Homo sapiens: one gene and its partners. The protein of the gene in region 3 purifies or fractionates together with the protein of the main gene of each other region. This does not show direct contact. Each region holds a gene or a part of one and is shown on either strand. Other genes may lie near its edges.

Region 1 (3,652 bases), about 57 Mb from region 3:
TCTGCAAGGTCAGGTTGTAGCCTGGGAAGCTGGTGTTCAGTAGCATCTGCTCCAGCTGGTGGAGTTGACTGCAGCCCAGAGAGATGGCCAGGGAGGCCAGAGCCCGGAGTGGGGTAAGGGTGAGAGGGGGCTGTAGACAGCCTGGGAGGGCAGGGCCTCCCCACCCACACCTCTGTCACACGCACCTCCAGACCACTGCACACACAGTGTCCTTGGCACACTGTTACCTCCCTACCCCATCTATCCCCTCCTCTTGATTAACTCCTGTTCAGGTCCCAGTTTATTGTCACCTCCTCCAGGAAGCCTTCCCTGACTGCTCCCTCACAGCTTCCCAGTAGCCACTCTTAGCCCTGACCAGTCTTCAGCATTGGCCGCTCACCTAGAGCTGCTCAGTCTTTGGGTCATAGACCCTGGAGAGCCCAGCCAGAATCTTAGACCCCCTTCCCAGGAAAATGCATGGAGACCCATAATTCTGCACTTAGTGTCATGACATCTATGATTAAGGGCCCCCATTCCTCGATGATAAACTTCATGAGGGCAGTGACATGCCCATCCTGCATCCCCAGAGCCTAGTGTCAGGCATGCAGTAGGTGCTCAATAAAAGTGCTGAAGAAATGCACAGTTAAGAGTCTACATTAGACTAACCCTGACCCACTGATTCAAGGTGCAGGCTTGGGGTGGGAGGCACATCCAACTCACCGAGAGGAAAAAACTGAGCTCCGGCCCCTGGACACCTGCATATTCTCCATGTAGCTCAGGAGTTCTTCCCATGTCTCTGTGGGGACACACCTCCCCCTCAGTTTGTGTCTCAACTGCCCTCTGGCCCCACAACCTCTGGGCTTTCCATCCCACCCTGAGAGTCTAGTTCACAAGCAGCTCCTGCTGCCCCCAGGAAGCCTAAGTGGCCCTTTTCAATCTCCCATGGTTTGACGCCTCCCCCTTTTGCATCACAGTCCCACGACTGGGCTAGGGCTGCCCCCAGTTCAGCAGAGCCCCCTTACCTGTTGTTGCATTCTGCAAAGTCAGAAGGCACAGGCACAGGAAAAGGGCACCACAGTGATCCATGCCCTGTGCAGAGTCTCCTCCAAGAACTGGCTCCGGCCCTGAAAAAGGTGCATGCCATCACCATGATGATAAAAGAGCAACCTCTAACTTCTAGGTGTCTGGCATGTCCCAAGAGTAGGACATGCAGCATCTTATTTGACTCACCACTCCTGCATTTCACAGATGAGGAAGCTGAGGATGAAGGGCAAAGGGTCTTGCTTTACTTAAACCTGCCTAAAGCCAGGTCTCTAAGACTCCAGAATCCTTGACCACCAAGTAATGGCTGCCATTAGCAGCTCCGCCTGATACACTCCCCTTCCCAAAAAGCAGTCTTTCTGGGGGCTTCCCCAGGATCCCAGTCTCTACCCAGGGGGACGGTGTTTGGGAGAAAGCAACAGGTAAACCCCATCCAGCCCTGCCATTAACTCATCGTGCGGCTTTGGGTAGGATCTGTCTCTCCTCTGCCCTCATTTTCCTCCATTTTAAAATGAACTAATAAACTTCTGCTTCAATAGAGCAAATTTATGTCTGCCCCTTAAAGCCCCACTAAAATGAGAGGGAATGAATAAAATAGGCACAAAGCCACAGAACAATGGGAAAGAAAAGAGGCATGAAAAACAGTACAATGGGGAAGAAAGGAGGCACAAAGCCTCTCAGGAAGCTGCTGGAGGATGTGCTCCAACAAAATGAGAGAGTAAATCATGAAAGAAGACACAGGGTACAGGAAACCCTGTACCCTACCATGGGAGAGGTAAAGCTACTCCTTAGAAAACAGGCACAAAGACAGAACAATGGGAAAGAAAACAACTGCAGAGATGGGAGATGTCAGCTAAATTTTGGAGGCTACAAGTAGGTGGCACCTGGTAAGACGTTTAGCAGACCAAAAAAAGTTGAACCCAAGTGCCTGCAGTGGGGAGAGGTGTGGTGTTGGCAGGAGACAAGGAGAAGCCTCACAACCTTGGAAGCACTTGAGAACTGGGGGCATCAGTAACCTCTGAAGAGGGGATGAAGGAAGAGGCTAAAAACAGCGATTGTTGGCCAGGCATGGCGGCTCATGCCTGTGATCCCAACTCTTTGGGAGGCCAAGGCAGGAGGATCGCTTGAGACCAGGAGTTCCAGACCAGCCTGGGCAACATGGCAAAACCCTGATTCTACAAAAAGAAAACAAAAATTAGCTGGGTATGGTGGCCTGCACTTGTGTCTCCAGCTACTCAGGTGGGTGAGGTGGATCCTGCCCAGGAGATGGAGGCTGCAGTGAGTCAAAATCATACCACTGCACTCCAGCCTGGGCAACAGAATGAGACCTTGTCTCAAAAAAATAAAAAATAAAAATAAAAACAGAGTTTGTTGGTTGTGAGTCTTTAAAATGCCCAACTCAGTCCCCAGATCTCCCCTGCCACCTCCAGTATTCAGGAGTTTCCTCACCATCCTACCATCCCCAATCCTGCTCCACACAAAGTTTACTCTCTGGAGAGAGGATGCACCATAATCAGAACAGAAGGGGGAATTAAGCAATATCCCCTCCCCACATCCTCCCCCACTCAGATTCCAGAAGACTGCAGCAACCAGGGTTATGCCCCAAGGCAGGAGAAAAGTCTCTGAGGAGCTAACCATTCCAAGAATAGTATCCTATAGCTACTTCCATTTTTGTGTTCCTCAATGTTATGGCCAAGACCTAACTTACAGTGAAATTTCACCAGTCACCAAGCTCTGCCAAGCAATTAGGTTTTTAGTGCTCCTCTCTTGAATGGTCAACCAAGGATTACTGAGAATTTCAAAACACACATCCTTTCTTGAGAAGCTGCTGGAGGATGTGCTCCAACAAAATGAGAAAGTATATCATGAAGGAAGACACAGGGTACAGGAAACCCTGTATCCTACCATGGGAGAGGTAAAGCTACTCCCCAGAAAATGTGTGAAGGGAAGGCCCGGGTTGATGCTGAACAGCAGGACTAGGGCATTTCCCATCCGGAGGGAGCAGGAGAAAAGAATGCCCTGGGAGGGAGGTCTTCAAGAAAAAAATAAGGAAGAGGAAAAGGAGAGTAGATAGACTATCGAATAGGTTTGAACATCTAGAAAAATTGTTTTTTGAGATGTCTTACCGAAGTTTATAAATGCAAAAATAAAAAGAAGCAATTAATTTCAAGAAAACCAAGTTGTACAAGAAAACGAAATGCCGCTACATGATTTAATATGGAATGTAATGCATATAGTCATAATAGAAACATTGAACAGGAGTTTTTTTAATTGTGTAAAAACCATATTAAGATGATTTCGATTTCCACCTAGAAAGTAGAGAGTCAGATGGGAGTATTGTTCCCATCATAACAATGGGAAAGCCAAATAATATACAAAATCTTTTTTTTTTTTAGCCTACTGGAGAGCTGGGGTCACAGGCCACCAAGCAAACTGGTTTCTGGAGGTAACTAGAACACATTATCTTTGATGGATGAAACACATGATCTGTTTCATGTTTGACAGAGCACAGAGGAATAGGTAGTTGCCGCAAAAGTAGATAAGGAGAAAATGACTAGTATCTTAATGAAATCTTAATGGCTGAGCATTAGCTAGAGTGGCAGTTTACTGGGAGCCCCAGACACAAGGGTAA
Region 2 (3,652 bases), on a different chromosome or scaffold from region 3:
AGCCGAGATCGTGCTGCTGCACTCCAGCCTGGGTGACAGAGTGAGACTCCATCTCAAAAAAAAAACAAAAAAAAACCTCTTTGTAACTCTATTGAATGCCTGTTGTCATTCTCCTAGATGTGAACTCTTCCACACCTTTTCCCATACTCATAAAAACATATAGGGTTTGATGGGGTGAAACACATATGATTATTTAATTAAAATGTCATGGTCTTTAAGTCCTTACAAAGTTTTTACCAATAGGTAAACAAACCAAATCAGTTTTTAATAAGGAAGTCTATTGGTTCATATAACTGGAAGTCTGAATAGGACTGATTTCAGGCTTAATTTGTTTTCCTCTGGTTCTTACGGCTCTGCTCTCTTGACTTTTCTTAAAGAATTGAATTACTTAAAGAATTCTTCACTGACAGATATTTTTCCTAAATGCATCAAAACTAGTATTTTATTGTCTTCTGACTTCGATTATAGCTGTTGAAGCTTCCTGTCAGTTTGTTATATATTTGTAGTTCATCTCTATTTTCTCTTGTAGCTTTTTAAATTTTCTGCTTCTGCATTTTCACTGCAGTTTAAGTGGATCATCCAAGCTTCTTAATCTCTCATAATTTCTCTCTTTGTCTCACTCTCCTATTTTATGGATAATTTCTTCAGCTCTATCTTCTACATCATTAGCTTTAAAAATTTATTATCAGTATTATTTTTGATTGGCAAATTATAATTGTATACATTTATGCGGTATAGCGTGATGTTTTGATACATATATACAACATGTAATGATTAAATCAGGCTAATTAACATTGCCTTGCCTATAATTTTTTATGATGAGCTATTTGAAATTCAGTCTCAGTTATTTTGAAATATACATTATTATTGACCATAGTCACCTTCCTGTGCAATAGATCTCAAAACCTATTCCTTCTGTCTATCAGAAACTTTGTACTCTGTGATCAACAGCTCCCTATTCCCTCTCTCCCCAAGTCCCCCACCCCCAGCTTCTGGTAACCATCGTTCTACTCTCCACTTTTAGGAATGGAACTGTATGGAATTCTAGGAATTCCACATATGAGATAATGCAGTATTTGTCTTTCTGTCCCTGGCTTATTTCACTTAGTGTAATGTCCTCCAGTATTCCATTGTGTATCTATACCACATTTTCTTTATTCATTCATTAATGGACACTTAGGTTGTTTCTATGTCTTGACTATTGTGAATAATGCTTCAATGAATATGGGAGTGCAGATATCTCTTTTACATACTGATTTCAGTTCCTTTGGATGTATACCAGAAGTGAGATTACTAGATGATATGGTAGTTGTATTTGTGGTTTTTTGAGGAACCACCATATTGTTTTCCATAGGGCTGTACTAATTTACATTCCCACCAACAATGTACTAATTTGTTTTTTCTTTTTTGAGATGAGGTCTTGCTGTGTAACTCCGCTGGTCTCAAACTCCTGGGCTCAGGATCCTCCCATCTCAGCCTCCTGAGTAGCTGGGATTACTGGGATTATAGATCTTGTACATATTTTGGTAGATTTGTACCTAATTCTTTTTTTCTTTTTTTTTCTTTTAGTGCTAACGTAAATGGTATTGTATTTTTTATTCCCAACTCCAGTTGCTTGTTGCTGGTGTATAGGAAAGCAGTTGACTATTGTATGTTAATATTGTATACTGAGACTTGGCTATCATCACTTATTAGTTCCGGGACGGGTTTTTTTTTGGCAGTTCTTTAGGATTTCTACATGGACTATCACAAGGACAGTTTTATTTCTTCTTTTCCAATAGGTATGTCTTTTCTTTCCCTTTCTTGTTGTATTACATTAGCTCGAGCTTCCAGTATAGTGCTGAGTAGGAGTAATGAGGGAGTAGCATCTTTGTCTTGTTTCTGATTTTAGTGAGAAAGCTTCTAGTTTCTCGCCATTAAGTGTGATCTTAGCTGTAGGATTTTTGTAAATGTTCTTAAGTTGAGGAAGTTCCCCTCTATTCCTAGTTTGCTAAGATTTTTTTAATATTAAATATCATGGATTGATATTGGATTTTATCAAATATGTTTTCCATACCCATTGCTGTGATCATCTGAGTTTTCTTCCTTAGCCTGTTGATGTGATGAATTACACAAAATAATTCATGAATGTTGAGCCAGGCTTATATACTTGGAACAAATCCATCTGGTCATGGTTGTAATTCTTTGTTTACATTGTCGAATCAGCTTTGCTAATATTTTGTTGAAGATTTTTGCATCTGTGTTCCTAAGAGATACTGGTATGTAGTTTCCATTTCTTGTAATGTCTTTTCTGGTTTTAGAATTAGGGTAATGTTGGCCTCACAGAATGAGTAAAGAATTGTTCCCTCAGCCTTTATTGTCTGTAAGAGATTTTAGAGAATTGGTTTCATTTTGTCCATAAATGTTTGGTAGGATTCACCATTGAAACTGTCTGGTCCTGGTCCTTTCTTTTGGGGGAGGTTATTAATTATCAGTATAATTTCTGTAACAGATACAGGCCTATTCAGGTTATCTATTTCTTGTATGAGTTTTGGTACTTTATATCTTTCAAGGAATTGGCCTGTTTCATCTAAGTTTTCAAATTTGTGGGTATAGATTTATTAATAATGTTCCACTGTGTCCGGAATTGGCGGGTTCTTGGTCTCACTGACTTCAAGAATGAAGCCGCGGACCCTCGCGGTGAGTGTTACAGTTCTTAAAGGCAGCGTGTCCGGAGTTTGTTCCTTCTGATGTTCGGATGTGTTCGGAGTTTCTTCCTTCTGGTGGGTTTGTGGTCTCGCTGGCTCAGGAGTGAAGCTGCAGACCTTTGCAGTGAGAGTTACAGCTCTTAAGGTGGCGTGTCTGGAGTTGTTCGTTCCTCCTGGTGGGTTTGTGGTCTCGCTGGCTTCAGGAGTGAAGCTGCAGACCTTCGTGGTGAGTGTTACAGCTCATAAAGGCAGTGTGAACCCAAAGAGTGAGCAGCAGCAAGATTTATTGCAAAGAGCAAGAGAACAAAGCTTCCACAGTGTACAAGGGGACCCCAGCAGGTTGCCACTGCTGGCTGAGGCAGCCTGCTTTAATTCTCTTATCTGGCCCCACCCACATTTCGCTGATTGGTCCATTTTACAGAGAGCTGATTGGTCTGTTTTACAGAGAGCTGATTGGTCTGTTTTGACAGGGTGCTGATTGATGTGTTTACAATCCCTGAGCTAGACAACAAAAGTTTTCCACTAGATTAGCTAGATACAGAGAGTGTGGATTGGTGTATTTACAAACCCTGAGCTAGACACAGAGTGCTGATTGGTGTATTTAAAATCCCTTAGCTAGACATAAAGATTCTCCAAGTCCCCACCAGACTCAGGACCCCAGCTGGCTTCACCCAGTGGATCCCGCACCTGGGCCGCAGGTGGAGCTGCCTGCCAGTCCCATGCCGTGCGCCTGCACTCCTCAGCCCTTGGGCGGTTGATGGGACTGGGTGCCGTGGAGCAGGGAGTGGCGCTCTTCGGGGAGGCTTGGGCCGCGCAGGAGCCCACAGTGGGGGGCTGAGGGGAGGCTCAGGCATGGCGGGCTGCAGGTCCCAAGCCCTGCCCCGCGGGGAGGCAGCTAAGGTCCTGCGAGAAATCGAGCACAGCAGCTGCTGGCCCAGGTGCTAAGCTTCTCACTGCCCAGGGCT
Region 3 (2,688 bases):
GAGTCCCCATCGGAGGCAGCGCTAAAGGACTGGGAGAAGGCACCGGAGCAGGCGGACCTCACCGGCGGGGCCCTGGACCGCAGCGAGCTTGAGCGCAGCCACCTGATGCTGTGAGTGCGGCAGGCAGGGAAGAGGGGCAGAGAGAGACCCCGGGGCCCGTCAGGAACAGCTGGGCGAGTATCGGCATTCACCTCTGTGGGCGATGGAAGGGGTAGCCTCAGGGACTGGGAACTCACTACTCACTGGGCCACCAGGGGTGGGAGACGCAGAGCTGGGCATGGCCCCAGTCTCATGGCTTGCCTGTGGAATGGGACAGCAATCTTAGAACCCAGGGGCTGGGCAGAATCCAACGGGGAGGCGGAGGTGACAGAGGTGATACTTGCTGAGTTGCAGAAGTCAGTGTGTCCCCGTTCCAGCTCCCTGCCATCCCCGGAGGCCCGCAGTGTTGCTTTTTTACTGGCAAGGAGAAGGCAGATGCCGGGCGACTTGCGCAGTATATTCGCCAGGATAGAGACAGGGTGCCCTGGTGCCCCCCGGGGAGGGACTGCAGCAGTTTGCGGGGCTGGGGCGGGAGGTGAATGCCGGCTCCCTCCAGGCCCTTGGAGCGAGGCTGGCGGAAGCAGAAGGAGGGCGCCGCAGCCCCGCAGCCCAAGGTGCGGCTCCGACAGGAGGTGGTGAGCACCGCGGGGCCGCGACGGGGCCAGCGTATCGCGGTGCCGGTGCGCAAGCTCTTCGCCCGGGAGAAGCGGCCGTATGGGCTGGGCATGGTGGGACGGCTCACCAACCGCACCTACCGCAAGCGCATCGACAGCTTCGTCAAGCGCCAGATCGAGGACATGGACGACCACAGGTAGGCGTGGCAGGCAAGGCCTGGGTTGGGATGGAGGCTCCCGGGGGAGGGTGGGGGCTCCGGGTCGGGGATGAGGCCCCCGCTGACGCTCCACCCCGCAGGCCCTTCTTCACCTACTGGCTTACCTTCGTGCACTCGCTCGTCACCATCCTAGCCGTGTGCATCTATGGCATCGCGCCCGTGGGCTTCTCGCAGCATGAGACGGTGGACTCGGTGAGCCCCTGTGCCTTCCCTGGGCCCAGACGAGTGGAGTCCGGGCACTGGACCCCCTCCCGACCCGCTCTGGGAGGAGAGGGCCAGAGTCGGGGCCCGTCTGATCCCGCTCCCCAACCTCCCAGGTGCTGCGGAACCGCGGGGTCTACGAGAACGTCAAGTACGTGCAGCAGGAGAACTTCTGGATCGGGCCCAGCTCGGTGAGGACGGGGCTGGGGGCGGGGCCGGCGGGGGCGGGACCTGGAGGTGCCCGGCGGGGGCAGGAGGCCCCGGACTGCGGCCGCTCGTCTCCCTCGCCCGCAGGAGGCCCTCATCCACCTGGGCGCCAAGTTTTCGCCCTGCATGCGCCAGGACCCGCAGGTGCACAGCTTCATTCGCTCGGCGCGCGAGCGCGAGAAGCACTCCGCCTGCTGCGTGCGCAACGACAGGTCGGGCTGCGTGCAGACCTCGGAGGAGGAGTGCTCGGTGCGTTTCCCCGCCCGGGACTCCCGCCTTCGTCTGCCCGGTGTTCGCTCTTCAGACCTCAGATAGACTCGGCAGAGTGATCCTTCGCCCTCGTTCCTGGCACATCCCGCCGTCCTTACGCGCAAGGCCTTGTCATATTCATTCCTCCTCATCCCCACCCTCCCCCATCTCCAGCTCCTCGCCCCGTAGACCATCATCTGATTTGGTCTTTTGATTTGGGTGTACTCTTCCAGCATGTGTCTTAAAGCTTACATAAGTGGTATTTGCCTCTTTTCCACTAAGCAATTTTTAAAAAAATTCATCCCAACTTTCATCACATCATCTTATGTGGAAGTGCCGTAGTCCATACCAGTTCCCTGATTTAGGACACAGAGGTTGTTTCTGATTTTCAGCTAACAGGAATTATGCCGTCAAACTCCTTGTAAGAGTCTTTTCCAACATGCACGTGCATCTCAAGAGTGGGGGTGACTTGTAGAAGCGGAGGGAAGAGCTCAGTGGTTTTGCCTTCGACTCCTGACTCCCTGCGTGCCCCTCATTGCCCTGACCCAACTGGACCTGACCCTGTGTCCCCCTCCCACAGTCCACGCTGGCAGTGTGGGTGAAGTGGCCCATCCATCCCAGCGCCCCAGAGCTTGCGGGCCACAAGAGACAGTTTGGCTCTGTCTGCCACCAGGATCCCAGGTTAGTCCTGCCGGCAGCTCTCTCACCTGCCTTTGTCCACACCTTCCCCGGGGGCTGTGGTGCAGAGGGTGTAGGGGCTCCTCTTGTTGGCGACTTGGCTGGAAGGGTGCCAATGCTAGGGGCTCGAAGCCGGTCTGACCACATACTTGGCTCATGCAGGGTGTGTGATGAGCCCTCCTCCGAAGACCCTCATGAGTGGCCAGAAGACATCACCAAGTGGCCGGTGAGCTGCAGTGGGGGGGTTGTTAGGGAGCCCTCCGTGTCATGTGGGAGAGAATGCCACACCCCACCCACTGGTGATACCAGAGATTCCCATCATGGGACCACCTCACGTTTTCAGAGGCTGTGCACCTGCCCTTTGTACAGCCTGTCCATCAACCAGCGCCTGCCCCTCTGAGCAAGTAGATCAAGAGAACTAGATGGAGACTTGAAAGGTCAAGTGACATTATTCCAGTTTGATAGAGACTCAGTGTGGTGGC

What was found.
Region 1: the proteins of RHBDF1 (region 3) and ADGRG5 purify together in Homo sapiens (co-immunoprecipitation; one large-scale study listed by IntAct). This does not show direct contact.
Region 2: the proteins of RHBDF1 (region 3) and TMED5 purify together in Homo sapiens (co-immunoprecipitation; one large-scale study listed by IntAct). This does not show direct contact.

The regions. Positions count from the first base shown.
Region 1 is NC_000016.10:57,559,507-57,563,158, reverse strand, and holds part of ADGRG5 (adhesion G-protein coupled receptor G5 isoform 1 precursor), read right to left. Parts: intron 1,104-3,652; coding exon of another isoform or gene 1,066-1,103; coding exon 1,002-1,065; intron 776-1,001; coding exon 700-775; intron 69-699; coding exon 1-68. UniProt on the Homo sapiens protein: Orphan adhesion G-protein coupled receptor (aGPCR). Ligand binding causes a conformation change that triggers signaling via guanine nucleotide-binding proteins (G proteins) and modulates the activity of downstream effectors, such as adenylate cyclase.
Region 2 is NC_000001.11:93,170,379-93,174,030, reverse strand, and holds part of TMED5 (transmembrane emp24 domain-containing protein 5 isoform 1 precursor), read left to right. Parts: intron 1-3,652. UniProt on the Homo sapiens protein: Potential role in vesicular protein trafficking, mainly in the early secretory pathway. Required for the maintenance of the Golgi apparatus; involved in protein exchange between Golgi stacks during assembly.
Region 3 is NC_000016.10:59,960-62,647, reverse strand, and holds part of RHBDF1 (inactive rhomboid protein 1), read left to right. Parts: coding exon 1-110; intron 111-595; coding exon 596-850; intron 851-951; coding exon 952-1,063; intron 1,064-1,188; coding exon 1,189-1,263; intron 1,264-1,366; coding exon 1,367-1,528; intron 1,529-2,108; coding exon 2,109-2,209; intron 2,210-2,368; coding exon 2,369-2,432; intron 2,433-2,549; coding exon of another isoform or gene 2,550-2,606; exon of another isoform or gene 2,607-2,688. UniProt on the Homo sapiens protein: Regulates ADAM17 protease, a sheddase of the epidermal growth factor (EGF) receptor ligands and TNF, thereby plays a role in sleep, cell survival, proliferation, migration and inflammation. Does not exhibit any protease activity on its own.